Regions from separate parts of the Homo sapiens genome. Here region 1 is linked to region 2. Evidence: fine-mapped expression QTL. A gene starts in region 2. The other region holds a variant in brackets. All regions are shown on one strand. Distances are from middle to middle. Region 1 holds the start of ZNF16 (zinc finger protein 16). Region 2 holds the start of ZFTRAF1 (zinc finger TRAF-type containing 1).

Region 1 (14,604 bases), 490 kb before region 2:
CCAGGAGTTCCTCCAGGACCTCCTCCCCCAGGAGCTTGCTACAGGTGCCAGAAATCTGGCCACTGGGCCAATGAATGCCCACAGCCCAGGATTCCTCCTAAGCCATGTCCCATCTGTGCGGGACCCCACTGGAAATCAGACTGTTCAACTCACCTGGCAGCCACTCCCAGAGCCCCTGGAACTCTGGCCCAAGGCTCTCTGACTGACTCCTTCCCAGATCTCCTTGGCTTAGCTCCTGAAGACTGACACTGCCTGATTGCCTGGGAAGCCTACAGGACCATCACAGACACTCTAGGTAACTCTCACAGTGGAGGGTAAGTCCGTCCCCTTCTTAATCAATACAGAGGCTACCCAGTCCACATTACCTTCTTTTCAAGGGCCTGTTTCCCTTGCCTCCATAACTGCTGTGGGTATTGACGGCCAGGCTTCTAAATCTCTTAAAACTCCCCAACTCTGGTGCCAACTTAGACAATACTCTTTTAAGCAATCCTTTTTAGTTATCTCCACCTGCCCAGTTCCCTTATTAGGCCGAGACACTTTAACTAAATTATCTGCTTCCCTGACTGTTCCTGGACTACAGCTACATCTCATTGCCGCCCTTCTTCCCAATCCAAAGCCTCCTTTGTGTCCTCCTCTTGTATCCCCCCACCTTAACCCACAAGTATAAGATATCTCTACTCCCTCCTTGGTGACCAATCATGCACCTCTTACCATCTCATTAAAACCTAATCACCCTTACCCCACTCAATGCCAATATCCTATCCCACACCATGCTTTGAAAGGATTAAAGCCTGTTATCACTCGCCTGCTACAGCATGGCCTTTTAAAGCCTATAAACTCCTCTTACAATTCCATTTTGCCTGTCCTAAAACCAGACAAGCCTTATAAGTTAGTTCAGGATCTATGCCTTATCAACCAAATTGTTTTGTCTATCCACCTGCAGTGCCCAACCCATACACTCTTTTGTCCTCAATACCTTCCTCCACAACTCACTATTCCATTCTTGATCTTAAAGATGTTTTTTTCACTATTCCCCTGCACCCCTCATCCAAGCCTCTCTTTGCTTTCACCTGGACTGACCCTGACACCCATCATCGGTCCCAGCAGCTTACCTGGGCTGTGCTGCTGCAAGGTTTCAGGGACAGCCCTCATTACTTCAGCCAAGCTCTTTCTCACGATTTACTTTCTTTCCACCCCTCCACTTCTCACCTTATTCAATATATTGATGACCTTCTTCTTTGTAGCCCCTCCTGTGAATCTTCTCAACAAGACACACTTCTGCTCCTTCAGCATTTATTCTCCAATGGATATCAGGTATCCCCCTCCAAAGCTCAAATTTCTTCTCCATCCGTTACCTACCTTGGCATAATTCTTCATAAAAACACACGTGCTCTCCCTGCCGATCATGTCCCACTAATCTCTCAAACCCCTACCCCTTCTACAAAACAACAACTCTTTTCCTTCCTGGGCATGTTTAGATACTTTCACCTTTGGATACCTGGTTTTGCCATCCTAACAAGACCATTCTATAAACTCACAAAAGGAAACCTAGCTGACCCCATAGATCCTAAATCCTTTCCCCACTCCTCTTTCCATTCCTTGAAGACAGCTTTAGAGACTGCCCCCACTCTAGCTCTCCCTGACTCATCCCAACCCTTTTCATTACACACAGCCGAAGTGCAGGGCTGTGCAGTCAGAATTCTTACACAAGGACCAGGATCGCGTCCTGTAGCCTTTTTGTCCAAACAACTTGACCTTACTGTTTTAAGCTGGCCATTATGTCTCTGTGCAGTGGCTGCTGCCACCCGAATACTTTTAGAGGCCCTTAAAATCACAAACTATGCTCAACTCACTCTCTACATTTCTCATAACTTCCAAAATCTATTTTCTTCCTCATACCTGATGCATATACTTTCTGCTCCCTGGCTCCTTCAGCTGTACTCACTCTTTGTTAAGTCCCACAATTACCATTGTTTCTGGCCCGGACTTCAATCCGGCCTCCCACATTATTCCTGATACCACACCTGACCCCCACAACTGTATCTCTCTGATCCACTTGACATTCACCCCATTTCCCCATATTTCCTTCTTTCCTGTTCCTCACCCTGATCACACTTGATTTATTGATGGCAGTTCCACCAGGCCTAATCACCACACACCAGCAAAGGCAGGCTATGCTATAGTACAAGCCACTAGCCCACCTCTTAGAACCTCTCATTTCCTTTCCATCGTGGAAATCTATCCTCAAGGAAATAACTTCTCAGTGTTCCATCTGCTATTCTACTACTCCTCAGGGATTATTCAGGCCCCCTCCCTTCCCTACACATCAAGCTTGAGGATTTGCCCCCATCCAGGACTGGCAAATTAGCTTTACTCAACATGCCCTGAGTCAGATAACTAAAATACCTCTTAGTCTAGGTAGACAGTTTCACTGGATAGGTAGAGGCCTTTCCTACACAGTCTGAGCAGGCCACCGCAGTCATTTCTTCCCTTCTGTCAGACATAATTCCTCAGTTTAGCCTTCCCACCTCTATACAGTCTGATAACAGACAAGCCTTTATTACTCAAATCAGCCAAGCAGTTTTTCAGGCTCTTAGTATTCAGTGAAACCTTTATATCCCTTATGGTCCTCCATCTTCAAGAAAAGTAGAACTGACTAAAGGTCTTTTAAAAACACACCTCACCAAGCTCAGCCACCAACTTAAAAAGGACTGGACAACACTTTTACCACTTTCCCTTCTCAGAAGTCAGACCTGTCCTCAGAATGCTACAAGGTACAGCCCATTTGAGCTCCTGTAGAGATGCTCCTTTTTATTAGGCCCCGGTCTCATTCCAGACAGCAGACCAACTTAGACTGTGCCCCAAAAAAAACTTGTCATCCCTACTATCTTCTATCTAGTCATACTCCTATTCACCATTCTCAACTACTCATACATGCCCTCCTCTTGTTTACACAGCTGGTTTACACTGTTTCTGCAAGCCATCACAGCTGATATCTCCTGGCGCTATCCCCAAACTGCCACTCTAAACTCTTGAAGTAAATAAATAATCTTTGCTAGCAGGACTATGCTGAATCTCCTTAGGCACTCTCTAATTAGATGTCCTGGGTCCTCCCAATTCTTAGACCTTTTATACCTGTTTTTCTCCTTCTCTTATTCCATTTACTTTTTCAATTCATATAAAACCATATCCAGGCCATCACCAATAATTCTACATGATAAATGTTTCTTCTAATAACCCCACAATATCATCCCTTACCACAAAATCTTCCTTCAGCTTAATCTCTCCCATTCTAGGTTCCCACGCTGCCCCTAATCCCGCTCAAAGCAGCCCTGAAAAACATCACCCATTATCTCTCTATACCACCCCCAAAAATTTTCACCATCCCAACACTTTACCACTATTTCACTTTATTTTTCTTATTAATATAAGAAGACCAGAATGTCAGGCCTCTGAGCCCAAGCTAAGCTATCATATCCCCTGTGACCTGCACGTACACATCCAGATGGCTGGTTCCTGCCTTAACTGATGAGATTCCACCACAAAAGAAGTGAAAATGGCCTGTTCCTGCCTTAACTGATGACATTGTCTTGTGAAATTCCTTCTCCTGGCTCATCCTGGCTCAAAAGCTCCCCCACTGAGTACCTTGTGACCCCCACTCCTGCCCACCAGAGAACAACCCCCTTTGACTGTAATTTTCTTTTACCTACCCAAATCTTATAAAATGGCCCCACCCCTATCTCCCTTCACTGACTCTCATTTCAGACTCAGCCCACCTGCACCCAGGTGAAATAATGCTCACACAAAACCTGTTTGGTGGTCTCTTCACATGGATGCACATGAAACAAACTACACTATAAGGCCATAGTCACCAGAACAGCATGGTACTGCTATAAAAATAGGCACATAGACCAATGGAACAGAATAGAGAACCCAGAAATAAACTCAAATACTTACAGCCGACTAACCTTCAACAAAGCATACAAAAACATAAAGTGGGGAAAGAACACCCTATTCAACAAATAGCCCTGGGATAGTTGGCAAGCCACATGTAGGAGAATAATCCTGGATCCTCATCTTTCACGTTATAAAAATCAACTCAAGATGGATCAAGGACTTAAATCTATGACCTGAAAATATAAAAATTCTACAAGATAACATCAGAAAAACCCTTCTAGACATTGGCCTAGGCGAAGATTTCATGACCAAGAACCCAAAAGCAAATGCAACAAAAACAAAGATAAATAGGTGGGACTTAACTAAAGACCTTTTGCACAGCAAAAGGAAGAGTCAGCAAAGTAAACAGACAACCCACAGAGTGAGAGAAAATCTTCACAATCTATACATCCAACAAAGGACTAATATGCAGAATCTACAAGGAACTCAAACAAATTAGCACGAAAAAATAATCCCATCAAAAAGGGGGCTAACAGCCGGGCGTGGTGGCTCACTCCTGTAATCCCAGCACTTTGGGAGGCCGAGGCTGGTGGATCACCTGAAGTTGGGAGTTTGAGACCAGCCTGATCAACATGGAGAAACCCCATCTCTACTAAAAATACAAAATTAGCCCGGCATGGTGGCGCATGCCTGTAATCCCAACTACTCAGGAGGCTGAGGCAGGAGAATTGCTTGAACTCAGGAGGCAGAGGTTGCAGTGAGCCAAGATCACACCATTGCACTCCAACCTGGGCAACAAGAGTGAAACTCCATCTCAAAAAAAAAAAAAAAAAAAAGTGGGGGGTGCACTAAGGACATGAACAGACAATTCTCAAAACAAGATATACAAATGGCCAACAAACATGAAAAAATGCTCAACATCACTAATGATCAGGGAAATGCAAATCAAAACCACAAAACAATACCACCTTACTCCCACAAGAATGGCCATAATCAAAAATCAAAAAATAATAGATGTTGGCGTGGATGTGGTGAAAAGGGAATACTTCCACACTGCTTGTGGGAATGTAAACTAGTACAACCACTATGGAAAACAGTGTGGAGAATCCTTAAAGAACTAAAAGTAGAACTACCAAGAAATACCATTTCGTCCAGCAATCCCACTACTGGGTATCTACCCAGAGGAAAAGAAGTCATTATACGAAAAAGATACTTGTATATGCACGTTTATGGCAGCACAATTCACAACTGCAAAAATGTGGAAGCAGCCCAAATGCCCATCAATCAACGAGTGGATAAACAAACTGTAGCATATATATATTTATATATATATGTGTGTGTGTATATATGTGTGTATATATGTATATATCTATACATATATAGAGAGTAGTATTCCATCATACATATATATATGATGGAATACTACTCAGCCATAAAAAGGAGTGAATTAATGGCATTCACAGCAACCTGGATGGGATTGGAGACTATTATTCTCAGTGAAGTAACTCAGGAATGGAAAACCAAACATCGTATGTCCTCACTCGTGAGAGGTAGCTAAGCTATGAGGATGCAAATGCATAAGAAGGATACAATGGACTTTGGGGACTGGGACTCAGGGGGAAAGTGCAGGAAGGGCGTGAAGGATAAAAGACTACAAATTGGGTTCAAGGCATACCGCCCAGGTGACGGGTGCACCAAAATCTCACAAATCACCACTAAAGAACTTACTCATGTAACCAAACACCACCACCTATGGAAATAAAAATTTAAAAACCTATGGAAATAAAAAAATTAAAAATAAATAAAAAAATAAACATAAGTTCCAATTTCAGGCCATCTCTTTGTGAATGCATATGACTGTACACTTTCAGAAAAAGGTATGTCACATCTTGAATGCTTTGCTGCTTAGAAATTTCTTCTGCCAGATGCCCTAAATCATCTCTCTCAAGCTCAAAGTTCCACAGATCTCTAGGGTAGGGCCAAAATGTCACCAATCTCTTTGCTAAAGCATAGCAAGAGTGACCTTTACTCCAGCTTCCAATAAGTTCCTCATCTCCAACTGAGAGCACCTCAGCCTGAACTAAAAAAAAAAGGGGGGGGGGTTATCTAGACAGTGTTTCTTAAATTCCAATAGAGTTTGTCATGCATTTTTTATTATGTATTCCTGATTTTGATAGTTTAATCTGCCTGCAAAATGAACGTCAAAATATTTGTGAGGTTTTTTTTGGTTGTTGTTGTTTGTTTCTTTTTTTTGAGACAGGGTCTCACTCTCTCATCAGTGCAACATGTGATCCCGGCTCACTGCAGCCGCACATTCCCCGGCTCAAGCAATCCGCCCACCTCAGCCTCCTGAGTAGCTGGGACTACAGGCGCACACCATCACACCTGGCTAACTTTTGTATTTTTTGTAGAGATGGAGTCTCCCTATATTGCCCAGGCTGGTCTCAAACTCCTAGCCTCAAGCCATCCGCCCGCCTCGGCCTCCCAAGTGCTGGAATTACAGGCGTGGGCCACCGCACCCAGCCTTATTTGTATTCTTTATGTCCAAGTGTACAATTCATTTCCGTATTAGAAACGATCCATGCACAATCTCACGAAAACATGTTATCTACTGAAGGAATCTGAATTCTTCCATTTATCTATCTAATCACTTACTGATTGAATGATTCAGTTCTTCCAAAAAACGTATCCTTAGGTTTTTATCAAACTACCGTCTGTTCCGATTCTGGGGGCCTGTATATTAAAATCTCCCACTACACGAGTATATCTCATTATCTCTGCATTTCTATTAGTGTCCCCTTTTCTTCAGTTGCCGCCTTGTTCAGTGCACGGGTCAACTCTGAAAAAAAGGGGAACAGAAGGGTCTCTGGCCTCAGGGCTAGTGGGACCAGGTCTGGGGCTGAACCACAGAGTCGCCCCGGCCTCCCGCCATCTAGAGAGGCTACGCTGCCCCAGATAGAACGAGCGGCGGGCCGGAATTCGGGGCGGGACTTCCGGGGGTCAGCCGGCGTTGGCTGAGACGTCTTCGTGCCACGGTGCTGCCTCCTTTCCAAGCGCGACCCGTTGAGGTTAGTTCCGCGAAGCTCCACGCCTGGGACCCTGCGTCTGGTTGTCCCTGATGCCCCCGTGGTTGGGGGGCCCAGGGGCCTCTCAGGGCTCAGACGGGGCGGGCAGCGAGCTGGGGACCCCGGGCGGGGGCGGAGCCGCGCGGGGGGTTGTGGGAGCGCGGGGGGGGCGGGGCGGGGGCAGCTCGGCCTGGGCTGGAGGTCAGAGCCTCTGGGGGCTGCCTCCGGTAGGGGGTCTCCGGGGAGACCCCGGGGTAAGGTCGCCGCGAGGGGCCGAGCCAGGACTCCGCCCACAGGCTGGTGGCGTTCCCGCCTGTCGGTGCCACCATTCGAGCTCGGGCGGAGCGACGGGGTGAAGGGGTGGCCTGCCCTTCCACACCTGTGGGATATCTCATCAGGTGGGACGAGAGACTGAGAAAAGAAATAAGACAAAGTGTAGAGAAACAACAGTGGGCCCAGGAGACCGGCACTCGGCACACTAAGGACCTGCACCGGCACCGGTCTCTGAGTTCTCTTAGTTTTTATTGATTATTATTTTCATTATCTCAGCAAGAGGAATGCAGTAGGAGAGCAGGGTGAT[AATAGGG/G]AGAAGGTCAGCAAAAAAAAGCATGTGAGCAAAAGAATCTGTGCCATAATTAAGTTTAAGGGGAGGTACTATGCCTGGATGGGCACGTAGGCCAGATTTGTTTCTCTCCACCCAAACATCTCAGTGGAGTAAAGAATAACAAGGCAGCATTGCTGCCAACATGTCTCACCTCTCACCATAGGGCAGTTTTTCTCCTGTCTCAGAATTGAACAAATGTACAATCGGGTTTTATACCGAGACATTCAGTTCCCAGGGGCAGGCAGGAGAGAGTGGCCTTCCTCTATCTCAACTGCAAGAGGCTTTTCTCTTTTACCAATCCACCTCAACACAGACCCTTTACGGGCGTTGGGCTGGGGGACGGTCAGGTCTTTCTCATCCCATGAGGCCATATTTCAGACTATCACATGGGGACAAATCTTGGACAATACCCGGCTTTCCAAGGCAGAAGTCCCTGTGGCTTATCGCAGAGCATTGTGCCCCTGGTTTATTGAGACTGGAGAATGGCGATGACTTTTACCAAGCATCTGCTTGTAAACATTTTGTTAACAAGGCACATCCTGCACAGCCCTAGATCCCTTAAACCTTGATTCCATACAACACATGTTTTTGTGAGCTCAAAGTTGTGGCAAAGTGGCTGGGGCAAAGTTACAAATTAACAGCATCTCAGCAAAGCAATTGTTCAAGGTACAGGTCAAAATGGAATTTCTTATGTCTTCCTTTTCTACACAGACACAGTAACAGTCTGATCTTTCTTTCTTTTCCCTACATGGGGCAGCAGTGCGATGGGGTGGTTCCCAGCGCATGGGAGACAAGGGTGGGTTCGTGGTTCCTGGTGTTCCATGAGAAGTCAGAGATGCACTGAGCAGAGCTGGGGGAGAAAGGGGGTTTCGCTCAGCCTCAGATGTCCTGCCTGGGAGGCCCAGTCAGTAGTGGAGTCGCTCTGCGTGTGGAGGAGGTACTCTGGGAAGGGAGGAGAGTTTGGGCCAGTTCTTCCCCAAGGGGGAAGGTGCTGAGGGATCGGCCAGGGCCCATCCTGTGGCTGCTTGCTATGGGAGGGTGGTGGCTGGCTCTTCCAGTTGTGTGACTCCTAAAGAGCAGGCTTAGCCTCTAGCCAGGAGACTCCACTTCCAAGCTTGTTCAGGCTGTTGGCCGAATCTGTTTTTCTTGAGGTTGGTCCTCAGAAGTGCTGGCTGCCAGCCTGAGTGATCCTTAGCTCTCCGAGGTCCTTCCATGTGGCCCTCAGATCTTTCTCAGGCTTTTAAGGGCTCATTTGATTAGATTGGGTCCACCAGGGTAATTCACGTCCATAACCTTAATTCCCTTTGCAAAGTCCTTTTTGGTATGTAGTGTAACATAAGCACAAGTTCCAGGGATTAGGATATGGACCTGGGTGAGAGGGGGCATTTATTCTGTGTCCTGGTAAGCAAGATCCCACACATAATGAAGTGAGAAAAATAAGGTGTGAAGCCATAGCATAGTTGGGTGTAATTTATCATTAAAAGGCAAACATATGTTTATATATTTGCTGTGTAAACCTAGATTAATCTGGAACGGTACACTAGAAACAAGGGAAACTGTGTGGATGTTTGGGGAATTTTTCACCATAAATCCTTTTTACCTTTTAAATTTTGAGGTGACTATGCCCCTATTCAGAAACAATGAGAATTTAAAGTATTTTTAAATAAAATGAACTAAATAAATATTGCAGATTATTACATCACCACTTGGATGGGGAGAGGTTTCCCTCGAGGAAACTGGGCATCTGCACTGTAAGGGCAGGCAGATGCAGTCACAGAGGGCCTTGTCACCCCCATCGCCCATGTCTCCTCCATTTCTGCTGCCACGTGGTAGGCACCTTAGTGCTGTACCTGCTTTGAATCTCATCTCCCACCATTCCTCTGAGCACCCTGCCAAGTTAATCTTGAGATATTAGTTTTGTCTCTCCTGACACAGAAATGTGGCCAGTGTTTCACCTTCATCTGGCAGCCAAGGCCCCTTATCATTGGTCCATAGTAACCATCCCTGTGAGCTCTGTTCATATCTCCTTGCCTTCTCCTTGATGGTGATCTGAGTCCAGGAGCACCACCCAGCCCTTCTTTCTTCCCCACATGGCCTATGGGTGACACGTACCATCACGTTGACTCCCTGCACCATCCTTCTGCCACCTTTCTTCACATCCCCTTTGCAGATCCCCTTGACCACACCCTCATTCTCAGCTGGTGCTCATGAAGGACAGAAGAGTCAATGTCAGTACAATGTGAGTGAAGGGCTGAGGTATGTCAGTGCTCCCAGTGGGCACCCGGGCAGGGTATGGTGCATTTACACAGTGAGGGGTGGGGGAATCAGTAACATGTGAGGAGCCCGTCATGCCGCCACGTGGGAGTGTCCTCTCTCCTGCTCACAGGGAGTAGTTAGGACTGGAGATGAGCCCAAGTTTGTGAATCTTAACAAGGGTGTTGATGCCTCAAGACTGGACATAATCACCAAGGAAGTTGGTGGCAGTGCAGAAGTGCACACTGGGGTGCCAACATGAAATGGGGAATGAGAGGCTAGGAGGGAGTAGCTGGTGCAAGTAAAGATGGGAACACCTGCTGTGGGTGCTGCCAGGATGGTGCAACTCAGATAGAACTGACCACTAGGATTTGGTAGGCGTTGACACATAATGATGACATGTGGGGCTGCAGCACAGGCTGCCCCTGGCTGTTCACCCTTTGGAGCTGCTGTTCTCCCACTCTAGGTGGGTCTGGCCTGCCCAGCTTCAGAGCATTGTGAATGTCAGCAACAAGGAGTGAGAAGAGTGGTCACAGCAGGATACAGGCCCACAGCAGGATACAGGCCCACAGCAGGATACAGGCCCCACAACAGGACACAGGCCCACAGCAGGATACAGGCCCGCAGCAGGGTACAGGCCCGCAGCAGGGTACAGGCCCCACAGCAGGGTACAGGCCCCACAGCAGGACACAGGCCCCACAGCAGGACACAAGCCCAACAGCAGGACACAAGCCCAACAGCAGGACACAGGCCCACAGCAGGACACAGGCCCACAGCAGGGTACAGGCCCACAGAAGGGTATGGCCCACAGCAGGGTACAGGCCCCACAGCAGGACACAGGCCCACAGCAGGGTATGGCCCACAGTAGGGTACAGGCCCACAGCAGGACACAGGCCCAACAGCAGGACACAGGCCCAACAGCAGGATACAGGCCCACAGCAGGACACAGCCCCACAGCAGGACACAGGCCCACAGCAGGACACAGGCCCACAGCAGGGTACAGGCCCACAGAAGGGTATGGCCCACAGCAGGGTACAGGCCCCACAGCAGGACACAGGCCCCACAGCAGGACACAAGCCCAACAGCAGGACACAGGCCCAACAGCAGGATACAGGCCCACAGCAGGACACAGCCCCACAGCAGGACACAGGCCCACAGCAGGACACAGGCCCACAGCAGGGTACAGGCCCACAGAAGGGTATGGCCCACAGCAGGGTACGGGCCCCACAGCAGGACACGGGCCCACAGCAGGGTATGGCCCACAGTAGGGTACAGGCCCACAGTAGGACACAGGCCCAACAGCAGGACACAGGCCCAACAGCAGGACACAAGCCCAACAGCAGGATACAGACCCACAGCAGGACACAGGCCCACAGCAGGGTACAGGCCCCACAGCAGTACACAGGCCCCACAGCAGGACACAGACCCTGTGGGGGCTGCCCTCCTATCATGGCAGGTCTGGGCACCATGACCCACTTTACCTTAGGGTCAGCATCTTGCCCCTTTGTACTGTGGCCCTGGCTTTTGAGTCTGTGTCTCCATGGCTGACTCCCTCTTTTTAGGTCCAAGATCAGGAAACACAGCATCAGCCCCTGAGACCTGGCAGCACCAGGCCCTCTTCAGGTCTTGGGCTGCAGGGGTGGAGGAAGAGACCCCGGCCTGATGGGAGGATGAATCCCTAGAGCTAGCCTGTCTGTAGACTCACCTGTGTTCTTGCCGGTTTTCAGGTCCTTGTCATGCCCAGCCTCAGAACTCGCCGTGAGGAGGCAGAGATGGAGCTCTCAGTTCCAGGACCATCCCCCTGGACCCCTGCAGCCCAGGCCCGTGTGAGAGATGCTCCTGCTGTGACCCACCCTGGATCTGCAGCCTGTGGTACCCCCTGCTGTAGTGATACTGAGCTGGAAGCCATCTGCCCTCACTATCAGCAGCCAGGTACTTTAAGAACAGTTCTCCGCTGGTGCCCTTATTCTGGGGAAGTGATGTCCATGGAACCCTGTGCTTACCCCTAGGAGGCATCTGTGTCATCACAGGTAGGGAGGGTGACGGGGTACTCTGACTCAAGGAGCCAAGGCTGGATGTCAGCAAGGAAGTTAACCTAGCCTGGCCCCTGGCACCTTGAGCAGAACTGTGATTTCCCCACTTGACACGAAGAGGTATGACATGATGGCCACCAGCGTCCTTTGATTTGCCCTATACTCCTGACCCCTTCCCAATTCAACAACCAGGCTGGTGGCAGCCCTCTCCCCTCAGGACTCTACTCTGGTCCAGGGCTTTGTACTGTGGTTACCCATACAGTTGGCCATCTAAAGCCTAGGAAGAAAAGCTGAGGAGTTTCTTGTGGGGAAATAGAGGCATTCAAAAGCACCCTTGGCCCGGGTGTGGTGGCTCATACCTATAATCTGAGCACTTTGAGAGGCCAAGGCAGGAGGATTGTATGAGGCCAGGAGTTCAGGACCAGCCAGTATAACATGGCAAGACCCTATCTCTACTAAAAAATTAAGAAAGGCTGGGTGTGATCACTCTCGCCTGTAATCCCAGCACTTTGGGAGGCCGAGGTGGGTGGATTGCTTGAGGCCAGGAGTTCGAGACAAGCATGGCTAACATGGTAAAACCCTGTCTCTACTAAAAGTACAAAAATTAGCCAGGTGTGGTGGCACATACCTGTAATTCCACCTACTTGGAAGGCTGAAGCACAAGAATTGCTTGAACCTGGTAGGCAAGGGTTGCAGTGAGCTAAGATCATGCCACTGCACTCTAGCCTGGGCAACTGGAGTGAGGCTCTGTCTCAGAAAAAAATACATAAATTTGAAAAAAAAAAAAGCACCTATATATTTTGGGGAATCCAGGAAGTCACATGCATGCGCAGGACTGGGTGTGTGCTCAGAAAAGACCTGTTAAGACCATAAGCTTTCTCAAGAACTCTGTCTAATCTCTAGGCTCAGTGAAGGCAGTCAACTCAGAAAGAGTTGTAAACAGCGTTTAAAAAGTACCCCAACACAGAGTCAATCCACAAAGACTGGGAGAAGTGTTTTGTGTTGGTTTTTCTCTTGATAAAATCTCTGTCAAAACACTGGTTGAACACAAGCTAAAGAAAAAGACTTCAGTGACTGTACTCGACAAAGAATAGTCTTTGCAAAAATAGTTTGGAAAAGTCACTAAATGAACATGTGACTCTAGTCTTCAACAATCAAAAACAGCAAAGCCTGGAGGGGGGATACCACATTTTAATATTCAGTTGTGCAGTTTTTAACAAAGCAAAAATCATGAAGCATATAACGAAGCAAAAAAATATGTCCCATTCAAAGGAAAAAAGTAAACTGACAAAAAGTGTCCTGGAGAAAGCACAGACATTGGACTTAAGTAGACAAAAACTTCAAATCAACTGCCTCAAATATGCTCAGAGAGGTGAAAGAAACCATAGAGAACTAGGCTGGGCATGGTGGCTCACACCTGTAACCCAGCACCACGGTGGCTCACACCTGTAACCCAGCACCACGGTGGCTCACGCCTGTAACCCAGCACCACGGTGGCTCACGCCTGTAACCCAGCACCACGGTGGCTCACGCCTGTAACCCAGCACCACGGTGGCTCATGCCTGTCATCCCAGCACTTTGGGAGGCTGAGGCAGGTGGATCACGAGGTCAGGAGATCAAGACCATCCTGGCTAACAAGGTGAAACCCCATCTCAACTAAAAATACAAAAAATTAGCTGGGCATGGTGGCAGGCACCTGTAGTCCCAGCTACTCTGAAGACTGAGGCAAGAGAATGGCATGAACCCAGGAGGCGGAGCTTGCAGTGAGCTGAGATCACACCACTGCACTCCAGCGTGGGTGACAGAGTGAGACTCCGTCTCAAGAAAAAAAAAAAGAAAAAAAGAAAAAAAAAAACCATAGAGAACTAAAAGAACCAGGAAAATGATGTGTGAACAAAATGAAAATATCAATAAGAAATACAAATTGTAAAAGAAACATAGAAAGTCTGGAACTAAAAAATGAAATGGAAATTTTGCTAGAGGGTTTCAGCAGTAGATTTGAGCAGGCAGAAAAATCGGCAACTTGAAGATAGGATAATTGAAATCATTCAGTCTGAGGAGAAAAAAGATCTAAGAAAAGTGAACTTAATGGCTGGGCGTTGTGGCTCACGCCTGTCATCCCAGCACTTTGGGAGGCCGAGGCAAGCAGATCACTTGAGGTCAGGAGATCGAGAGAATCTTGGCCAACGTGGTGAAACCCTGTCTCTACTAAAACTACAAAAATCAGCTAGGCGTGGTGATGCATGCCTGTAGTCCCAGCTACTCTGGAGGCTGAGGCAGGAGAATCGCTTGAACCCAGGAGGCGGAGGTTGCATTGAGCCGAAATCGTGCCACTGTACTCCAGCCTGGGTAATGGAGTGAGACTCTGTCTCAAAAAAAAAAGAAAAAAGAAAAGTGAACTTAATGGACCATGAGACACCATCAAGTAGACCAACGTGCATAGTAGGGATGTTCAAGAAGGAAAAGAATAGAGAAGGGGATGGAAAAAATATTTGAAGAAATAATGGCTGAGAGTATCCCCAATGTGATGAAAGACATGTCTACACACACAAGCAGTTCAACAAACTGAGTAGAGTCTATTTAAAGAGATCCACACCAGGTCTCTTTCTAATCAAATTGTTGAAATACAAGGAATCTTGAAAGCAGCAAGAGAGGAGACCTATCCCTGAACAAGGGGTTCTGGGTAAGATTTCTAGCCAGTTTTTCATCAGAACCCATGGAGGTCAGAAGGCAGTGGGACGGCTTAGTTAAA
Region 2 (14,988 bases):
CCACATCATCTGTCTCCTCCGTGCTTCTGGGCAATGCTTTAAGAGTTTACTGTCAACCAAGTATGCATAGAATTAAAATAAGGCCCAGAAGTGGAATCCCACCCTGGGTCACACAGAAGCTGTTTGGGTTCCAGAGCCCCACTTATTAGTACAGCCAACTCCCCAGGAACGCCCCCGTCAAAAGAACAGTGAATAGGCTGCCCAGAGAGGAGGGGCTAGGCGGGGAGGGGTCCTGACCTGGCCCCGGGCCTCACTCAGCGAACCCTGACAGCTCTGGGTAAAGGTGCTGACCAAACCTCGGAGGTCCCCGCAGCCCTGACGCAGGCTGGCCATCCGTGCCCGAAGTCCTGGAGAGGGAAGTCTGTTGGAAGGGAAGGCCCAGCCTCCAGGGCCTCCCATGAGCCCCAACCCCAACCCTTACCTGCCAGCTGCCCATGCATCTGCTGTAGCTCACGCCTGCAGTTCTGCTCCGTCTCCTGCTGGAGCTGCTGGAGGGCCCCTTGAAGGCCCTGCAGCTGCACCTCCTGCACCCCCAGCTGCCCCGCCCAACCCCACCCCTGTCACTGAGGAAACAGGCACTTACCAGGCCCTGCCTCAGATAAGCCCCTCCCAAAACCCCAGCCCGCCTCACCCCTGAGCCATGGATCCCTGGGCCCCATGCCCACCTGGGCTCGGAGGGCTTCTGTGGTGTCTTGGGCCTCCTGAAGCCGGCCCTGGAGCTCTAGCAATGCCTCTGCCTCCTCCTGCGGGAGGGTGGGGGCCAGGAGGGACTCAGAGAGGGACGGTCTGTGGTACCATTTCACAGATGGGAAAGTCAAGTCAAGAGGTGGGCAGAGCTGGCTGTGAACCCATGCCTCCCAGCTCCACGCAGACCTCCTTCCCACAGTCCCTCTGCTCTCCTGGGGTCAGCCACTCAGAGGGGCCACGGAGAGGGGGGTCTTCCCATTGGCATCAGCCTCCCTGATGGGGCTGCCCTACACAGACCATCCCGGGAGGTCCTGAGGAGGCTCGGGCCCTGTGGCTGCATGCCAGGTGTGCAAGAGCCCCAGGCTGCAGGAACGGCTGCAGCTCGGGAGCAGAGTACCTGCGGAGCCCTGATGGGGGGCCCGGGGCCCCAGTGCAGCAGGAGGTCCCGCATGAGACTCAGGCTCTGCTTCAGGGCCTCGTTCTCCAGAGTCAGATGCTGAACCCTTTTCTCTGAGTCCGTCGCCCCCTGGTGGAGAGGAAACCTCGGCACTCACCTGAAGCACCCCCTCCATGCCCGGCCCTGCCAGGTCTCCCTGCAGCCTCACCACGCCCAGGCGCAGTCGACCCAACTCCTCCTCCTGCTGTTCCAGCTGCTGCTTCAGCTCCTCCAGCTGGGGAGAAGTAAGAGAGACAGGGTGGACCTCCTTTTTCTGGCGTCCCAGCCGGCAATCCCTTCTGGCTCCAGGGACCTCACCTGTCCCAGGATGAGCTGCTCCAGCCGCTGCCACGCCCTCTGATCCTCCTCCAACTGGAGGGGCTGCTGTCCCTGGGTCTCATCCCCCAGTGGCTCGCCTGGGACTGCGGTGAAGTGGGAAGGGCTTTCTTCTTGGGATGTGGATCCTGGAGTAGGGTGGGCCCAGTTAGCACTGAAGAGGTCTCTAGTCCAAATCTTCCGGAACATGACCCCGAACTCCAGGCCGCCCAGGTTCTACCGGGATTTGCTCCCTCCAGAGTTCTTCTTCAACTTACTGTCCTTTACTCACCATCTGGAGAGGGGGGCCGGACCCGAGGGGCTGGCTGAGTCCCCTGGAGCAGGGCCTGCCTCCCCCTGGGGCTTCGAAGCCATGCCAGAAGGGCCAAGAGCTGACTGGTCACTGTCAACAGTGAGGGGACCTCGCCAGACTGCGAAGGAGACAAGAATCCGAGCAGGGCTGTGAAAGCCAGGAAGGCCGGGGCAGGTGGTACCTGCCAGCAGCCCCCTCCGCCGCGCTCACCTGGCCCAGGTCCGCCGGGCCCCCGCAGCTCTCTTCCGCCCCCAGCTGGACGGAGAGGAACTCGGCGAGGCGCAGTAGGGCCTCTTCCAGGGACACCGCGGCCGCGCGGCCCTCGGCTGCGCCTTCCGACCCATCCTCAGGCTCGGAGCTGGCTGCCGGTCAGGGAGGAGGGCGGGAGACATTTCGGGTCACGTGCTTGAGCCAGGCCTCCGCCCCTCCCTGGGAGGTCCCGGCACCGCCCTCGCACCGCGGGACTCCCAGCCCGCACCTACCGGCCAGGCCGGTCAGCTCGGTCCACAGCTCTGGCGCGGGCAGGTCTGGGCGCCGGCGACCCCGGGGCTTGCGGGCTCTCTAGGGAGGGGGCAGGGGCGCCCCTGAGGAGGGGGGCAGGCAGCCTGCTGGCCCCTTCCCTCCGCGAACCGGGCCGGAGGATTGGGGCCGAAGTCTACGCTTCCAGCATCGGGGCCGAGCCGAGGGTCCTCGGCACGGCCCCGTCGCCCCGCGCCCCGTGCCCGCCCCCGCCCCGGGAACCTCGGCGTGGGGGTGGGGCAGGCGGCGGGAGACGACGGGCTGCACGGCCAGCCCCGCTCACCTGGGCGGGGTCCCCGGGCTCCGCGGCCGCCGCGGCGCCACCATCCCTGCGGAAGAGGCTGTAGAAGATGTAGATGAGCAACGAGTAAAAGGCGTACATGGGAGCGCGGGGCGGCAGAGGGCCCCGCTTCGCGCCGCCCCGCGTCCCCGCGCCCAGACTCGGCGCCCGCCCGCCGCAGTGCCGGTGCGCATGCTCGCGACGGCCGCCCCCACGGCCCGGCTCCCACGGCTGGAAGGCGAGCGCGGGGACGGGGGTACTAGAAACAGGTGCCCGCGGCCGCACCTGGAGACCCGCCGTTTCTCACGGCGCCGCCCGGCGCGCCCCAACCCCTACACCGCGGACACCGGGCTGAGAGCGCCCACGGCTCCCGCGACCCTCCTCTCGGAATCCCTCCCACCCTCCGCGTAGTCCCCCACCGCTCCGGTTTCGCGGAGCCTTCAACACGCCGGGGTTCTCCTTCCTCTCCCTACAGCCCCGCCCATCTCAGCCCCGCCCATCTCAGCCCCGCCCAGACCCCCCCTCCTCGCAGCCCCGCCCAAACCCCGTTCCTTGCAGCCTCGCCCAGGCTCCTCCCCTCTCGGTCCCTCTCAGTCTCGCCCAGACCCCTCTCCTCGCAGCCCCGCCCAGGCCCCGCCCCTCGCAGCCACGCCCAGACCCCCCCATCGCATCCTCGCCCAGGCCCCGCCCCACCCAGGCCCCCTCCCTCTCAGACCCGCCGCTCTCAGCCCCGCCTAAACCTTATCTCCCTCAGCCCCGCCCAGACCCCCCGCCCCTCGCAGCCCCGCCCAGACCCCGCCCCTCGCAGCCCCGCCCCGGCCCTTCTCCCCTCATCACGCTCCTTCCAAACCACTATGCCCACGCACGCACCCACCCAAACAGAGCGTTTTCTGGTCCCCGAGCTCCTCCCGACCCCACCCGCTCCTACGGCCTCCAACCGGCCCCCCCCAGGTCTCGACCCTCTCCCCCAGGCCTCGACCCTCCCCCCCCAGCCGCTCTAGCCCCGCCCGGCCGCTCTAGCCTCCGCTCCTCTCGCTGGTGGAGGTTCCCGACCGCGCTCGCTCCCGCAACTGGGGGCACGGCAGAGGAGGCAGGGCCGACGGCGGTGGGCGGTGCGTTGCGCAGGCTCGGGCCTCCCGCTCGCCGCTGCGTTGGGACCGCGCAGCCCGGTAACTGCGCACGGCTGGCCTCCCGGAGTCCTGCGCCGTCGCTCCTCCTGGACCCGGGTTCCCAGGACAACGCCTCCCGGAACGCAGGGAGCAGGCCGAGGCCGCCGCGTGGGCCTGCAGCGCCTCGCCGCTCTCTCTTCCCCAGGCCCGCACTCCCACTTGGGCTCCAGGGCCCCAGGGCTGACGTTCCCCCCAGCTTAGACCCTGAGTCGTTTTCCCCCGTTTCCCGGCTGAATTAGGTTCTTCTTCTCCACAGGTGTGTGCAGTGGCCTCAGGGATCCGGAAAGTCTAGGACTGAACTTCTCCTAACATCCAGTAATGGGGACCTGGAACCTGGGCTTACTAGAGTGCCGCGCGTAGGGCTCCAGGTCGCTGGCTTCTGCGCTTCCTTCCTCTCCAAAGTTGAGTATCTCCTATCTGTGTCCTCGTACATACTGCCGCCTGAGGTGCCATGGCCCCCAAGCCGGGGGCCGAGTGGAGCACAGCCCTGTCCCATCTGGTGCTGGGAGTGGTGTCTCTGCACGCAGCCGTGAGCACAGCCGAGGTGAGTACACTGGGGCTGAGCAGGGGCGCATCCCCATACCTCCCAAACCCCAAGGACCTAGTTTCCTGAATTAGAGAGAGGTTGGTGGGAAGTGCGTCTAAGACCAGGTCTCCATGGAAGCCCCAAACCCTTTCCTGTTTAAAAGGGTGACCCCGGCCTCTTTTTCCCACGTGTTCTCCCTTCCCTGTGTTGACAGGCAAGTCGAGGGGCTGCTGCTGGCTTCCTGCTCCAGGTCTTGGCTGCCACCACCACGCTGGCCCCAGGGCTGAGCACACACGAAGACTGCCTTGCTGGAGCCTGGGTGGCCACCGTCATCGGCCTTCCCCTTCTGGCCTTCGATTTCCACTGGGTGAATGGGGACCGCTCCTCTGCCAACCTGCTCCTGGGAGGAGGCATGGTGCTGGCAGTGGCTGGCGGCCACCTCGGCCCTGAGGGCCGCTCTGTGGCTGGTCAGGCAATGCTGTTGGTGGTCGCAGTGACCATCCTCATTGTAGCTGTCTTCACGGCCAACACTTATGGGATGTGGGGGGGGGCGATGCTGGGTGTGGCAGGCCTCCTGAGCCGGCTGGAGGAGGACAGGCTGCTGCTGCTACCGAAGGAGGATGTCTGTCGCTGGGCCTTGGCTGTAGGCAGCTGGGCTTACTGCCGGGCCCTGCATACACAGCGCCTCCAGTGGGAGTGACAGTTGGATACAGCCAGGCAGGGTTTCTGCCCTGCCGAACACTTTCCCTCCCACCTGCCTGCTCCTGGCGCCTTCTCCCTAGGGGTAGACTCTTCTGCCTACTGAAGTGGGTTTGCTGCACATTGACTGGTCAGGGGCAGAGTCTGGGTGCTGTCCTTTGGCCACGTGTGGGGACTTGTCTAGACCAGAATGAAAGGGACAGGGTCCCAGACACGTTTGGGGGTCCTGATTCTGGGCTGGACACGGTTGTGGATCCAGAGAAGAGGCCTAGTCTCCAATAAATCTTAGGAATTTTGCAGGAATATGAAAACTGCCCATTTTTGAGAGGGATTGAGGGATCTTTCAGTGAGCTTCCTAAGGCCCCTCAGGACAGTAGTCAGTTACCCTGACAGGGTATGTGCTGGAACTAGGATGGGGTCTCATGCAGCCCGGCCTCCTTTTGACTATTGTCAGGAAGACCCCTGGGCTGAGAAGACATAGCCCTGGGCCCTTACTCTCCAGGGACATGGTGGAGTTCCAGATATCCTGGCCTGGCCTGGCAGGTGGCCCTCTGGGGCAGTGACCTTCAAGAACTGAAGAGTAGGGTGGAGGCAGGGGAGGGCTGTACCACAGGCGTTTCGAGAAACGCACATCCTTCCCAGAGCTGATTCGCCCTCCTGTGTACCTCCGGCCTGTGGAAGCCAGCCCTATTCCCTAATACCTTCGTTTTCCTCAGTGGACCCCTTCAGTCTCCAACCCCAGGGTTAGAGGGGGTTCGGACGAGCAGAGGATTAGATTCCGGTGGGTTAGGGGTCTGGAGTCCCCTCTCCTGGAAGTCTCTCCGCTTGCTCCTGTGGAGACCTAAGGGGTCCCGCACCCGACAGAGAGGGGTGGCCGGCGGGATTTTTCACTTGTGTCCTTCCCCTGCGGGGAAGGGGGCGAGAGCCCCTAACACAAGCCTGAGTCTTGGGGGACAGAGACACAGGCACACCCCGCCGTAGGGGTCGGCGGCCGCCACTGGCTCGTGGAGCGTGGGTGCCGCGCCGGCGCCACAGCTCGCGTGGGCCTCCCTGCCCCCAGGTGCGAGTCCCTCCGCGACTCTCGCAGGCCGCGCCCCCTCCCCGCCCACCTTCTGCAGGGGCGGGCCTTCGGGGGCCCTCGCTCTCCCATTGGCTCTAGTCCCTGCGCTTTCTTGCCCCAAGCGGCGCTCCCATTGGCCCCGCGTGGGGCTCACGTGACGGGGAAGACGAGGGGGTGGTGGCGGCGGGGCGGGGGGAAGCGCACAGCGAAAACAAAGATGGCGGCCGTGCCGGGGTCGGTGGCCGCGGCGGCTGTGGGGCTACGCGCGGGCCGGGCCCACTGAGGCGGCGGCGCAGGGAGCGGGGCTGCGGGTTCGCGGCGGCGGCGGCAGGAGAGCGGCGGGAGCGCGCGGCGCCCCTAACTTCTAGTCGGGGGAGCGCGCCGGCATCCGCCCGCCGGGCCGGCCGGCCGCTATGTCCGGCGCCGAGGAGGCCGGCGGGGGCGGCCCGGCCGCGGGGCCCGCGGGCTCCGTGCCGGCCGGGGTCGGGGTCGGGGTCGGAGCCGGGCCCGGGGCGGCCGCCGGGCAGGCGGCGGCGGCGGCTCTGGGCGAGGCGGCGGGGCCTGGGCTCCCGGACGAGGCGGGCTTGGCGGGCGCCCGGCAGCTACAGCTGCAGGAGGCGGCCGGCGACCCCGACGCGCCGCCCAAGAAGCGGCTGCGGGCAGCCGAGGCGGCCGAGGCGGCGGCGGCGGCGGCGGCGGCCGGCAGCGGGAAACTGGAGGAGCGGCTCTACTCGGTGCTGTGCTGCACCGTGTGCCTGGACCTGCCCAAGGCCTCCGTGTACCAGGTAGGGCCGCCGGCCGACCCCGACCCGGCCCAGCCCGGGGCTGCAGCCCCCGCCGCGGGGCCCCAGGATCCGCGTCTCCTCGGAGGCCAGGCCTGCGGGGCCCGGCGGCCGGGAACCCTCTCTGGCCCTTACAGCCACTTCCTCGCCCAGCGGGGCTCCAGCGGCTGCTCCGAAGCTCCTCGTTGTCTTTCTCTCAGGGCTTTATTTTCCGCTCGGGACCCCCCTTTTCTGTTTTCTGATCCACGGTACTTCCCGATCTGAATCGCTTGTCTTCCGCTTACCTCTCCCTTCTTTTTTCTAGACTTCCCCACGGTCCCCTGAACACTCTCCCAACCCACAGCCTCAAACTGATCCTTAGCCCGCAACTGCTCCCCGCAACCCACCCGGTCCCAAGCTCCCTGGGCTCAGAGTCCTGTGCTCGAGAGCTCCTTCCCCATTCTTCCGGCAGCCACACCCCCGAGTTTGTCCCTCCACTCCTGAACATCCTATGGACGCCTCCTTTTCTACCCTCCTGGGTGGAAGAATCCTTTCTCTTGGTCCATTTCCAGTTCATCCTGAAGAACAGTAAGGAGAGGGGATTGCTGTTTGTCGGGATGAACCATTTGCAACAAGCCCCACAGTTTGGGTACCTTCTCCAGTCCCAGCCAAACCCCACATCCAACTGGACTTGCCATGCCCCACGCTAGGCTCCTGCCCACCTCACCCAGGCCAGGCCAGGCTTCCTAGGCAGCCAGTGCTCCAGGAGCCGGCCCACCCCTCCTCCCCCATCTTCACATCCGCATGGCAGTGGGACTCAGCCCTTAAGCAGCCTAGGGCTGTTAGGGTACCTGGCCCAGGTGGGTTTGACATGCCCTTTCCCAGGTAGCAGCAGGGACAAACTGGTTGACACCCAGAGGCAGAGTACAGTGTCCCCACCTTCCCTGTGTCTTTCCCTCTCTTTCAACTCCCCAGTCCCTGTGAGAAATGAAGCAGGTTCTCTGTCAGCTTTCTTTACACTTACAGGAGCTGGAAGTAGCTAATGGGGCCTTGTTTCCCTGCTTGTGTTTGAATTGGGGGCCTGGATGAGGAGCTACTTTTGTAGCAGGTGGTGTAGGGCTAGTCTAGGTTGCCATTTCTCCAAACTCTGGATCTCCAAGTCCTTCTTGCTGTGGCATGACCTTGTCGGGAGGACCCCAGTGTGCCTGGGTGGGGAGAGGGCACTGGCTCTAACCCACCCTCCTGGGTGTCAGGCACCAGGGCCAGCTAGGGGAGCACTTTTCAGAGCCACTGGCTCCCAGAGTTAGCAGTTACTCCTTGGCTTTGGCAGTGCCTCAGCTTCCAAGATGTGCCCACTCTCCAGCTCCTTTTTCCTGGCTCACAACCTTCGATCCTCCCAGGCGGAAGAACTCTCCTTTTTTTTGAGACGGAGTCTCACTCTGTCACCCAGGCTGGAGTGAAGTGCCACGATCTCTGCTCACTGCAACCTCCGCCTCCCGAGTTCAAGCAATTCTCCCTACCTCAGCCTCCCGAGTAGCTGGGATTACAGGCGCCTGCCACCATGCCCGGCTGTTTTTGTATTTTTTAGTAGAGACGGGGTTTCGCCATGTTGGCCAGGCTGGTCTCGAACTCCTGACGTTGGGTGATCCGCCTGCCTCGGCCTTCTGAAGTGCTGAGATTACAGGCATGAGCCACTGCGCTTGGCCAGAACTTTTTCTTGGATCTCGAGGGAGACTCCAACAAGCCAAGCCAATGGTGTGAGGCCACGGGGGAACAGGGAAGTCTCCTTGTCTCCCCATTGGTGGGTGGGCTGGAGCTGTAGCTGGACCTGGTGGTGATGGGCCACATGGTACTGGTCCCTGGTGCACTGCATCCCCCATCTAGACTGGCCCGGCACAGAGTGATGGCTCTGCTTCTGACCGGAGCTCCTGGTGACCAGGCCTCTGAGCCTAGCTGGTTCAAACCGGCCTGCACTGTGCAGAGTGGAGTTCTGCTCTGGGCGGCCAGAGGCAGGGAGCTGAACAGGTGTAATGGAGACCGAAGGCGCTGGGGCTGCCCTGGCTGGTGGCCCTCCCTGGCCTGGGGGCTCTGTTCAGTGACTTCCCTGGGAACAGAGCAGCTGAGCGAGGAGTGCTGTGGGCACAGGCCTCCCTGAATGCTGCGAAGAACACCTCCGGCGGGTGGCTCTCGGCTGTGAGTGGTGCCCCTGGAAGGTCAACACAGACCTGGAGACCTGGGCTCTGGCCTGCTCTGCTCCCTGGAGAATCTGGGCACAGATGGTGTGGGCCCCCACATGCTGCCTTCTGCGTGTCCCTGGTTGGGCCCATGCTGGCCATCACCCCAGCTTGGGTTCAGTCTACCATATTCTACTAGCTTTCCTTGGTGACCACGTTGATTGGCTGTCTCGAGCCAGCCAGTGTCAGGAATGCAGCAGGTTCCACCCTCTGTTCCTGCTAGAACGCTTTTCCTGACCCCAGCAGAACACATGGCTCAGGGTGGGCACCAGCCAAGCTGGGGGCTGACTTAGACAGTCCCTGACTCTGGTGAGAAGAGGGGAGTGGCCATGCTGAGCTTTGTGTGTTCTCCCTGGCACTGGGGCTGTGGGGGACAACTCCATGGGCCTCTGGAATTGGCTGGGTCCTCAGTAACTCGAGAGCTTGTCATCCAGATACCAGATGCCACCAGTGCTGGCAGGGAAGCCTCGGGTGGTGCCCCAGGTCTGAGCCTTTGGGCCTGCAGGGCCAGCTGACCCATGGGCCTGTGCCCGTACGATGATGCCTCACAGGCTGGGAAACCTGCTTGGGTGTCAGACTGAGGCCCTCATGCAAAAGGTTTCCGCCACCGCCGAGTCCTGCCTCACGTCAGGTTGGGGCTGCAGCCAGTACAGCAAGACTCAGCTTTTATGTTCTCTGTGTGGGTGTTAGATATGTTCTGGGGGACTGGCCTGACAAGGTGTGCAGCCACCTTCTGGAGTCTCAGGTGGGTGGCAGGAGGGCTGGTGGGGCAGCAGTTACACCTGTGCAGGAGCTTCTGGCCTGACCAGGCCGCGCAGGTGGTCAGGTCGTTCCTGCCGGCTCCCTGCTCTGCGGCCCGAGGGCAGTGTGGCCTGTTGGCACCTCTGCCCATGGGGCACCTCCTCTGGGAAGAGACAGCCTCAGCGGTGCCCGGGACGTTGCAGCCGCAGCCTCATCCCTGACTTCTCTCCCTCCATTTTGGCCCTTCAGACGAGGCCCAGTGTGATGCTGCGTAAGACAGACCTGGCCCTGACCCTTCCTGCTGCTGTCAGATGAGGCCCTGGGCCTTGGTGCTGGCACCTGGAGGAAGGGACTGCGCATTGTTCCCACCCCTCATGGGGCATTCTTAAGGCAAAAACGGGCTCACTCGGGTGTAAGTGCCGGGCAGGGGCCTCTCACAGATGTGGTCCAGCCGCTCCCTCTAACTCGGCCCTGCACAGTGCCCTGCCATTCCCATGCTCTCCTGCCTGAGGTGTCCTCTCCCTGCCCCTGCCCACCTCTTGGGCCCGGCAGAGGCAGCGCCCCCACTTTGAGACTTTGTTCTCTCCTTGCTACAAGGATCCCCTCCTGCCCCATCTGACCAGGGTGTGTCCACTCTGTTCTGTGGGTGGGTTGGTGTGTGCCGTGGCCCTCCCGCCTGTAGCGCCCATGTCTCTATGCCACATGTTGACAGTCCATTGATAACAGCCCAGGAAGCAGAGATGGCTCCTCTCTGCCCGAGCCCCACACCCCCAACCAGGCCAACAGTGTGCAGTCCTGGGGGGGTGGAGTCACCATCCACATGTCCAAGGAGCTTCGGGCCCCTCTTCCCCAGTCTCCTGGGCAGCAGTACAGGACTGCAGCTGACTCGTTCTTTGAGGTGAGGAAAGTGGCAGAAAACATCTTTGTAAATACGTCTGCTTAGGTATCTAAAACACAGGAGCAAGGAAGATGTTCTGGAATCTCTGGCTAGTTGGAATTTTTGTTTTCTGTGGTGGTTATCATTTGAGTTACTTTTAGATCTAAGCAGCCTTGTTCTGAATGTGGGCCCGACTCTGGGGATTGATTGGCCACCGTTTGAGGTCTGACAGCAGTAGCAGGTGAGGGACTTCAAATCCAGCCTGGGTGGAGGGTTCGAGTCCTGGCTTCATGCTTAACAGCTGTGCGGCCTTGGACAACGTGCCAGTCCCTCTCAGACCCATGTTTGATTCGGGAGGTTAGGGGCCGAGCACGCGGGGTGCATGGGGTGTGCCCTGAAGCACCACTGGCCCTGGTGAGGCCTTGCCTGCATGCAGATGGCAGAGGAAGGGGGACCTCCAACTGGCTGAGCAGCGCTTTTGGGGTTTGTGCCACAGGGAAGCCCTTTGGCTGCATTTTGGCTCTGACGACCTCTGTCAAGGGCCTGTGGGTCCCTGACCCCTGGGTGAGCGAGGGCACTGCTCCCATGGGCCTGGGCACTGTGCCATCCTCCAGTGGCAAACAGGAGGTCCCCAGGGTCTGAGAGAACCATGCAGTCCAGGTGTGAAAGGGGTCCTACAAGGTCAGCTGACCATAGAGACCTTGGGACCACCAGGAAATCGTGGGGGCCCTCAGCCAGGGGATGGGGTCAGGGCTCCTTGAGCCTGTTCCGCCCATCTAGCTCCCCTTTAACCCCAGGGAAGAAGTAGCTCAGGTGGAGACCCTGGGTCTGCATGGGGGTCACGTGAGCTGCCTGTAGCCAGCAGGGGGGAGGGCTGGGTGCTGTCCTGAGGATGCAGGTGCAAATGGCCATTTCTGGGCCACCTGTGTGTATCAGCATCTGCAGAGGGGCCTGGGGTCTGGCTCCTGGGGTTGGCAGCCCCAGGGGCTCTGCCATGGCTGCCCAAGGTGGTGATATTTCCTGTCTGCCTGTTGGGTGTGGGGCAGTGCCACCCTGTCCCATCCCACCTCATCAGCACAGAATGAAGCTGGTCCTATACTCATCACCTGTGCACATGAGGAAACTGAGGCCCCAAGAGGGGAGCCCAAGGTCATATTACTGGGGATCTGTGGGCTGGCGTCTGAGCCCAGCACTGTGGCTTCAAGCCCACATCTGCCCTAGGAGGGCCCAGGAGGCCCTGTGATGTCATTCCCCCGTGATGTCATTCCCCCATGACATCATTCCCCTGTGATGTCATACATGTGACGTCATTCCCGTGCTGTCACCACATGATGTCATCCCCTGTGGTATCACCTCTGTGATGTCAATACCTCTTTTAATGTCATCCCCATGGTGTCATTCCCCCCATGATGCCATCCCCCCATGATGTCAGTCCCCCATGATGTCAATTTCCCACAATGTCATCCCCTGTAATGTCAATACTCCCTTTGATGTCATCCCCGTAATGTCATCCCCTGTGATGTCATTCCCTCATGATGCCAGTGTGATGTCATCTCTGTGATGTCATTCCGTGATGTCACCCCCCATGATGCAATTCCCCTGCAATGTCATGCCCCTGTGATGTCATCCCCCGGTGATGTCATCCCCCCATGTGATGCCAGTCTCCCATGATGTCCCCCCTGTGATGTCATTCATGTGACATCATCCCGTGATATCATTCCCGTGATGTCTCCCCCATGATGTCATTCCCCATGTGATGTCAATTTCCCACGATGTCACCCCTCTGACATCATCCTCTGTGATGTCTCGCCCATGATGTCATCCCCCATGGCGTCATTCTTGGTCGTGGGGGGTTGTGGATCCCCTCCTCTCCCCTCCCTTGGGGTCTTCCTGGCTGGTGGGGAGAGGTGGCCTGGCCTGGGTGCCACAGCAGCTGCTCTGGAAGGTGCCCGGGCTCTTGGGGGCCTTGGCCCACGCCATCCCCTGGACTGTGCGGCGCCCTCCAGGGCCCAGCTTCTGTTGGGTGTTGGGCACAAGTCAGAATCAAGTGCATCTGGCCAGATGCTGCCAGGGCCAAGGATGCAGCTGCCTGTGGCCTGGCCTTGGTGTAGAGCCAGAGTCTTGCGCAGGGGCTGAGGGGACCCAGATGGTGGGGAGGCTCCGGAGCATGTGACCAGGGACCGTCCTGCTGTGGACAGACCTCCTGGGCTGAGTGTTGGTCGGGACCGGGCCATGCACCTAGAGATGTCCTTTGACCAGTGGGGAGGGTCTGGGGGTGAGTGTGGCTGTGTCCCTTGGCTACTGGGCCAGTGTAGTCCAGGGCACTCTAGGGACTCCCTGTGTTCTGACTTGAATGGAGCTATTGGGGCTGAAGGGGCAATGGCCCTGTGTCTCCTCGGAGCTTGCAGGTCCTCTTGGAGGCCCAGAGAGAGCCAGAGGAGGGCAGGGTCACTGCTGCCTCCTCATGGTATGGAATTGACTGAGCCCATGCTGGGATCTGGAGGCCCCAAAGGAATGAGGCCTGTGGCCAGGGGCCGGCCCAGGAGCTGGGGTGGCTTTCGGGGGAGAGGCCCGCAGTGCTGGGAGGTAAGTGGTGATGTGCTTGGCAGCCTCAGTGCTCCCTTAGGAGGGTCTAGGACCCCACCTCGAATCTTCCTGGGCTATGCAGAGCCAGGAAGAGAGGCCAGGTGGCCTTGGTGGGTGGCATTAGATGCTCCAGCCCTGCCTGGAACTCCCTTGGGGGTCGGGCCACAGCCAAGAAGAGTGCTGTTTTGCCTGTGCTAAGGCCACTGTACGTGCAGAGCTGGACCCAGAACCTCGTCCAAGGCCCCCGGCAGTCTCACCAGGAGGTGTTTAGAGCTGGCCACGTGGAGTGGCATACCTCCGGGGGGCGGGGGGCTGTGAGAGGACAGTGGTGTGGGCCCTTGGTCTGTGCCTCCCACAGGACAGCTGCTTCAATAGCATCTGTGCCCCCTCCTGCCTGTAGTCCACCCACCACTGACCCCTGGACTTGGCTGGCGGATTTTCACACCTTCTCCTGGGGGCAGGTCTCAGCTTGTCCCCAACCCAGTCAGAGCCAGTCTCACTCCCTGCCTCAGGCAACTGTGTATGTTTTAATTTTTATTTATTTATGTATTCATGAGATAGAGTCTCACTCTGTCTCCCAGGCTGGAGTGTAGTGGCACCATTTCGGCTCACTGCAACCTCCGCCTCCCGGGTTCGAGCCATTCTCCTGCCTCAGCCTCCTGAGAAGCTGAGATTACAGGCGCTCGCCACCATGCATGGCTAATTTTTGTATTTTTAGTAGAGATGGGGTTTCACCATGTTGGCCAGGCTGGTCATGAACTCCTAACCTCAGGTGACCTGCCTGCCTCGGCCTTCCAAAGTGCTGGGATTACAGGCATGAGCCACCGCCTGTAATTTTAATTTTTAACCAAACTGAGAACTTGAGGATTGAATGCAGGTAACGGGTGGTGTTCATGTGGATGTGGATTCCATGAAAGAGGGCTTTGTCCTCACTGTCGGTTCTCCACATGTAGGTCCTTTGACTCAGCAGGCCTTAGGCCTAGTCCACAGGTGCTGAGTGAACAGCCCCAGCGTCTGACAGCTCCTTAGCTTGGGGTGCACAGGCAGCTGAAGCAGTAGGATGGCAGCTCAGACTTCCCAGGGCCCCACGTGTGCAGGGCTGGCCTCCCAGCACCACCAGGCAGGGCCGGCCTCCCAGCGCCACCAGGCAGGGCCCTGTGAGTGTCCCCTCCCTGACACACACCTTGTAGAGAGGCTGGGCCTGGGCAGGCTGCTCTGCTGCACCACATCCCATTCTCAAGAGGGTCCCAGGTCCCAAAGGAAGCCTGTAGCCCAGTGGCTTTCTGGAGGTTTGCATGGCTGGCAAGCCTGGGCCGGCTGCTGGAGAGGCATCAGGACAGGAGCAACTCTGCTGACTGCTCCCCTCAGCGAGCTCTAAGAGTCTTTGGGTGGGAGGCACATCACATCCCTGTCACTCCTGGCTGGCCCTGGAATGCCTCAGCCCACACACCCCACTCCAGCCAGGGCTGTGGGAACTGTGTCTGCTCAGGTACAAAAGGCTTTGTTTGTTCTTGGACCTCTTGGTTCTGGTCTGGGCTTCCCACCTCCCATGCTGTGAGCCCCCACGGGCTGGGACCGCAGCTTGCCATGTGTCTCTCAGTGGCACCAAGTGGACGCTCGAGGCTTATGTTGAGGGAGTGAGAGCCAGGATAGGCCACTGGGCGTGCTGGGAGCCCACACAGGCAGGGAGCCCAGCGGGAGGTGCCCTGCTCCTGCCAGCCCCGGTTACCCCAGCAGGCTCGGCACCCACTCAGAGCCCCCATTTCTGCTCCCCAGGCACTCCCT

What was found. PIP is the estimated chance that this variant, and not a neighbour inherited with it, causes the effect.
Region 1: its variant is fine-mapped to the expression of ZFTRAF1 in caudate (GTEx, PIP above 0.99).

Annotation. Positions count from the first base shown.
Region 1 is chr8:144,943,158-144,957,761 of GRCh38, reverse strand. It overlaps ZNF16 (zinc finger protein 16), which reads left to right and starts at 6,882. Exons shown (of 3, transcript NM_006958.3): 1 at 6,882-6,965; 2 at 11,547-11,751. The coding sequence starts at 11,556. RefSeq lists an enhancer at 6,753-6,822 and a silencer at 7,063-7,372. The variant AATAGGG/G (reference allele first, on the strand shown) is at 7,543.
Region 2 is chr8:144,454,084-144,469,071 of GRCh38, reverse strand. It overlaps ZFTRAF1 (zinc finger TRAF-type containing 1), which reads left to right and starts at 6,201. Exons shown (of 4, transcript NM_001330618.2): 1 at 6,201-6,789. The coding sequence starts at 6,418. It overlaps TMEM276-ZFTRAF1 (TMEM276-ZFTRAF1 readthrough), which reads left to right and starts at 3,371. Exons shown (of 5, transcript NM_001408018.1): 1 at 3,371-3,501; 2 at 3,976-4,263. The coding sequence starts at 4,171. It overlaps TMEM276 (transmembrane protein 276), which reads left to right and starts at 3,580. Exons shown (of 3, transcript NM_032687.4): 1 at 3,580-3,719; 2 at 3,976-4,263; 3 at 4,460-5,247. The coding sequence starts at 4,171. The coding sequence ends at 4,945. KIFC2 (kinesin family member C2) reads right to left here and starts at 2,735. Exons shown (of 18, transcript NM_001369769.2): 1 at 2,554-2,735; 2 at 2,234-2,312; 3 at 1,962-2,113; 4 at 1,731-1,869; 5 at 1,442-1,587; 6 at 1,293-1,358; 7 at 1,085-1,213; 8 at 666-743; 9 at 422-536; 10 at 238-347. The coding sequence starts at 2,652. It also overlaps MIR10400. RefSeq lists enhancers at 1,742-1,841, 1,532-2,368, 4,567-5,180, 5,275-5,952, 5,953-6,630 and silencers at 2,502-3,061, 3,122-3,251, 3,322-3,581, 3,632-3,861, 5,819-5,938 and 3 more.